2 separate regions of the Homo sapiens genome follow, and region 1 is linked to region 2. Evidence: fine-mapped expression QTL. A gene starts in region 2. The other region holds a variant in brackets. All regions are shown on one strand. Distances are from middle to middle.

What was found. PIP is the estimated chance that this variant, and not a neighbour inherited with it, causes the effect. A credible set is the group of variants that fine-mapping cannot tell apart.
Region 1: its variant is the best candidate, but not a certain one, in a credible set for the expression of SORCS3 in whole blood (TOPMed, PIP 0.67).

The regions. Positions count from the first base shown.
Region 1 is chr10:104,386,070-104,388,980 of GRCh38, reverse strand. All of the region lies in intron 9 of CFAP58 (cilia and flagella associated protein 58), which reads right to left. Among named protein-coding and RNA genes, the nearest start is that of CFAP58, 34 kb to the right of the region's middle. The variant T/C (reference allele first, on the strand shown) is at 1,314.
Region 2 is chr10:104,639,968-104,642,878 of GRCh38, reverse strand. It overlaps SORCS3 (sortilin related VPS10 domain containing receptor 3), which reads right to left and starts at 1,589. Exons shown (of 27, transcript NM_014978.3): 1 at 925-1,589. The coding sequence starts at 1,551.

The sequences.
Region 1 (2,911 bases), 250 kb after region 2:
CAACTCATGAGATAAATCACATCCAAATATAGAAAGTTTTATTACAGCCAGAGAATTGGTGCTCCTGGCACTCCTAGGCTTCAGGGGAGTCCAGAAAATGCTTACAGTGCACGACAGAAGTACAGCCTCAGTTTATAACCTACTCCTACCTTTTCTGTTGCCGTTAAAACAACCTGCCAATAGAAATAAGAGTGAGATAGAAATCAATAACGCATACAGGAAAACTGCAGCATAGCCAAAACATCACATAGACCAAGGTGGGATTAGAAAGTAGGTCATTGCATTTGGAACCCCTTAATGTACATTTGATGAAATATCAGTACAATAAACTTCTCCAATAAGTTTTTCTGACTTGATGTCAATGGTTTGAATGCTGACAATGCTTTTACCTTCATAATGAAACTGAAAAACTCACTCTGCAATAATAGAAAACAACTATGCGCCCTGGCTTGCGAAATGCTGAGTCTTCCCTATTTTTCTTGCCTTGTTATTTTACCCTCTATCTTGAATTTAGAGAGGCATATCTATGGCTTTGATTCAATTGCATAACATATTATATTATGAATGGGGGATATAATAATATCTATCTCACAGGGCTATTATGAGGATTTAAGTGAGAGAATATATGTCTACGCCAGCATATAAGTACTTAGCATATAGTAATTTAATCATTTAATAAATGCTAACAAATTATTATGATAGTTTACACTACGTCACGTTACATAATACTAGTACTTTAAAAAGTTAATTTGATTTTCCTCCGAATCAAATCCTGTTCTGCAGGAAAAGTAATGATATGAAGCATGCTTCTTTTATTATGATAGAAAAAGCTTATAATTTGTGTTCCCTTGATTCCTCTCTCCAGGATTCTACCCAATTACAGAGGCTCTGTATAAAATTCAAATTAACATCAATGAAACAGGAGCTTTATTTCATTATGAAGATATCTATCTAGTGGACAATATTTCTTTAATCAATTTTTGGTTTCTTTGCTTGCATTAAGTCCTTGAAAGCACATTATTATTCATTTCCTGGAATCTCTGTCCTGAAGAGCTTTGCTTGACAGTGTTATAGGCAAATGAGCAAAGAGCTAGGAAATTTGTTGTTAGGGATTTGTTGCAAAAGAATGTTTTCTGGCATATAAAATGTCTGCGAGGTGACTGCCAGAAGTTTAATATTTGAAATGAAAAAAGAGGGAGATCCTAAAATGAGGCAAGTGCATCATGTGAAAAATGTTCAGCAGATTTAATAATTTACTAGGAGTGGTTTTATCTAGAACATGTAAAAGTTCAGAAAGCAGGAAATATGGTAGA[T/C]CACAACTTACCATGCCATTTCTCATGCCTCTCAATTTATCTGAATAGTGAAATTTAGAGTGCAGCAAAGGAAAATCATGAGGATAAAAACTGCTGTAATCCTGGGGTAGATTATCTTACGGTTTAACAAATGTTCACTCTCTCCCCTTGTCCCACAACCTAAAGAGAGAAGTGCATTTCCCTTGCTGTTGATGTTAGCCTTGGCCATGTGACTCGCTATAGCCAATGGGAGGTCAGAATATCAGACAAGTAGAGAGACATGACATGTGCCTGTATGCGTGGCTTTGTCTCTTGTTCTCCTTCCTTCCCCCATGAGAAGAACATGCACGTGGAGGATAAGAAACATGTGGTCCAGAACTGAGCCCAATCCACATCCCAGAGCCAAGTCCAGGCAAGCCCAGTTTAGGTCAGCTGAACCTCTGTCAACTGCAGGTGTGTGAATAAGAAATAAGTGCTTGTTTTTGTATCCCACGGAGATGTTGTGGCTATTTATCATGCACTATTATTATTGCAAGTGTTGATGGAGACAAACACATAGGAAAAGGTTTGGGATTCTGAGCCATCCAGTTCAGGCACAAAAGGGGATCTTCTTCCTCACTGGCAAATGCCAAGCTAAATGAATACAATATAATGTAGAAGTTTAGCATCTTCAAGTTCACTTTTCTTTCTCTAAGCAAGAAAGAACACGAAGGCAAATGTTGATGCTGTTTTGCAGCTCAGAAGGAAGAAGAGACCAGGTCTGGAAGTCACTCACAGCTAAAAATGCCAATGATAATTCAGATAAAATCATCCATCATGGTAACATGTTTCACATGAATTTAAAGGAAGGGCAGACCCATAGTCACAAGTAAATATATTGTTAGAAAATAACTTGATACAGATACTTAAAAGTGAGCCTCTGACTAGTTAACTCAGATGTCCAATTATGCTTTCCATTCATTCTTAGTTCAAAAAATATTTGAGTATTTACTTAGTAAATAAGCAATATGAAGAACTCAAAATTGAATAAGACTCGCCCCCAAGAAGCCAGTGTGTAGAATGAGGCAGACATACACAAGTAACAGTTACGTGCACACGGGCCTCCTCAACTGCCAGAGGGGAGCCAAGTACAGAGGAATTAGAGATCACTTTTAATAAAGCTTCTTGGGAAAGGTGGAATTTTATTTGGTCCCTGAAAGAAAGGCAAGGTTATTAATAGTGTTTATTTATTTTTTAAATCAGGATACTAAAGTAATACACAACCATTTTACTTTTTCTTATTTTTATTTATTTATTTATTTTTTTTTTTTTGAGATGGTGGTTCACTCTTGTCACCCAGGCTGGAGTGCAATGGCACAATCTCAGCTCACTGCAACCTCACCTCCCAGGTTCAAGCGATTTGCCTGCCTCAGCCTCCCAAGTAGCTGGGATTACAGGTGCCCACCACCACTCCCAGCTAATTTTTGTATTTTTAGTAGAAATGGTGTTTCACCATGTTGGCCAGGCTGGACTTGAACTCCTGACCTCAGGTGATCCACCCACCTTGGCCTCCCAAAGTGCTGGGATTACAGGCATGAGCCACCATGCCCAGCCCATCCATTTTAGAATAGCTAAAAAAA
Region 2 (2,911 bases):
GGAGTAGGCCAGACCGGGCTCAACGACGCCACCTCTCGGTACATCCTTGTCCAGGAGAACCCGGTGGCGGGGAAAAGCGGGTGGAGAGGTGTGCAGGAAGCTCAGGCACCCAACTCCGCTCAGGGAGCCGTTTGTGGCGCAGGACGCAATGGTGAAGTCGAGAGTTTTCTGCTGAGCGACTTCCGTGTGCCTGTGCGTGCGTGAGGGCGAGCGGTGTGGCATGAGCGCTGGATGGGTGTGGAATTTCGCTTCACGCTTTAAACTTTTTTTTACGGCCTCTGCTACGGCTTTCCAGGGCCGCTCCCTGGACTTTGAAGGAGGAACCGGGGTTACCTGAAGGCCAAGGCTGGGGGCCGACTTGGCCGAGCCTCCCTCTTGGGCTGGAGGACTGCGCGCCTGGAGCGGATAGCAGCGACCCCGAGGCGAGCAGGAGGCTGGGAGTCCGAATGGCCTTCCGGGTTCCCTTTCGCGTGACGGGAGGGGGGGTGGGGGTGGGGTGGGGGTAGGGGGAGCCCGGCAGCCGCAGGAATCGGTCTGTTCAGCGGCTCCCGCCCCAAGTCAGCCCTTTTTCTCATCCAAGAATTCAAGCACCCCGCAAACAGGAAAACTGACCCTCCAAGCCAAGTATTGGAGAAAGTGAGCACAGATCCCTCCCCCACTCATCTTTAAGAAGCCCCTTCCTCCACTCCCCTCCCGGCGGCCGAAGCCTAGGGTCTCCAGTAAACAAACACACACAGCGTCTAACAACAAACTCCGTTAACCTGTTGGGGGCGTGGGGGGAATCGGACAAACCTGTTATCTCGAAAAGTCGAGGCGTCCCCCGCCTCGACCCCCGAGCAACTATCTGTCCCTCGCTCCCACCCACCCCCCCATTCCCCTTCGGTGTCAGGAAACAGGCGGACCCGCCGCCGGGTGGGTACTCACGCTGCTGTTGTGTCCCGACCAGTGCACCATGGCTTGGTTGTGGGCCGAGTCCCCGGTCAGCGCGAAGGAGGTGCTGGGCAGCCGGAGGTCTTCAGCCGCCGACCCCCCAGCCCGCGGCGCCTTCACCTCCTCCCGGGAACCCTTAGCAAGGGGACGGCTTCCTCTGGAACCATCGGCCGGAGCAGTGGCCCAGGCGTCCCCGCGTTCCTGGGTGATTGGGGGCTGCGCCCGGCGACTCCTCCTCGCGCCGCCAAGCTTGGCAGGAGCTGGGATGCCCCGGCCCCGCCGCTCGCCTGCCGGTGATGTCCCTCCGGCTTCCACCTGCATCTCACCGCCTCTGCCGCCGCCCTGCTGGGGCAGCAGCTCTGGTCCGGCCCGGCGCCCCAGCACGGCGGCTCTCCGCGCCGACGCCAGCTCCTCCGGCCACTGGCTGGCCACTGCCCGCGGCGAGAGTGGAGACAACGCCGGTGGCCGCGAAGCCGGGGCCGCCGGGCGTCCGGGACCGCCTGTCGCGTCCCAAGTGATCTCGGCGCCGGCCAGGACCCACGTCGACAAGAGTAGGAGCCCCGTCCGGACAAGCGGCGCCCCCGGCCTGCCTGCGGGGCGCTCCGTGCGCGCCGCCTCCATCCCGCTGCGGCTACCGCGGCTCGGGCTGCCGAGTGTGTGGCGCCCGCCGAGGTGCGGGTCCGGCGCGGGGGGTGTGCGCGCGCCGGCGAGCGAGCGAGCGTGTGTGTGTAGGGGGAGTGGGGAGGGGGCGGCCGGGAAGGAGGTGGCTCCGGCTGGCGCGCCTCGCCGGTCCTCTCCACTCTTCCCTCCTAGCTCCCGCTCGCCCGTTCTCTTGTCCAGAGGGTGATTCCAAACCCGAGGAAAATTAATAATTGCCCCTTCGGTGCTTTCTTTCTTAAAATCAGATTCCCCCCAATCCTCCCCACTGAGCTCCTCCAGAAATTTGGTAAAAAGGAGTAATCAAAGGTAATAAGAAAATCTTCTTAAAATATGAAAATCAAGCCGGATCCAGGAGGGGCCGGCAATAGACCCCAATCCCGAGTCTCTCCGAAATCCAGCCTCCAACGTGCTCCCGGCGAAGAGTTGGGAGCCGCTTCTGGACGCGTTTGGGGGTTTACTCTTCGGGCCTGTTATGAGGGGCGGGAGATGGCGCGCGGGGAGGGTACAGGGGTCTCGGGGGAGAAGGAGGAGGAGTTGTGTGCTCAACGCCAACTGTTCGCGTTCTAGAGCCGAGAGGGAGCCAGGTGCCTCCGCGCGGGGAGGCTGCGCACGGAAGCCAAGCGCGGGATGCACCCTGGACTCTGCTCGCCGCTCCCTGGCCCGGCCGGCTCCCGGCCAAACCCCGCCACCCAAGGCCTGCGCCCCCGCGCGGGGGCGTGGGGAATGCGTGCGTGCGCGTGCGTGCGCGCAGGCAGGCGGGCGTGAGGCGAGGGGTTCGCAGGGGGCCGGCGGGCAGACCGGGCGCTGCCGCGTGGGGGCACCTGGCTGAGCCGGGCCGGGAGCGCGGCTGGGTGTGAGGGGGCGCGCGGTTCCGTGCGTGCGCGTTTGCACGAGCATGTGTGCACGTTAGTGTGAGCGATGGCAAGTGGGGCGGGGGCGGGAGGTGTGCGCTCGGCTTTTGGTCGCGTGCGGATCACGCACGGGCTGTGTTTGCATTTCCAGGAGCCTGCGAGTGGTCAAAGAGGCAATGCTGAGAACTAGGCAGGCCGCTCTCGGCAGCCCCCTCCTCTTGGCGCCCCGAGCACCCACGGCCCCCACTACAAGCGGTTAGAACCTGATAAAGCCTCCTAGGGGATGAGGGAAAAGAGGCGGAAGGCCCCGGTGGGATCGGGGACTTGCCAGATCTTCTCGGTTGAGGGATTCTCCTTGCCCCGACCTCCCGGCCAGAGGTGGGGCGAGAGAGTAGTCGAGATGTCTGTTCTTCCAGGGAGGATCCAGACCTCATTTTGCTGCCTAGGATTTTGAGGTCGTGCCCTCACTC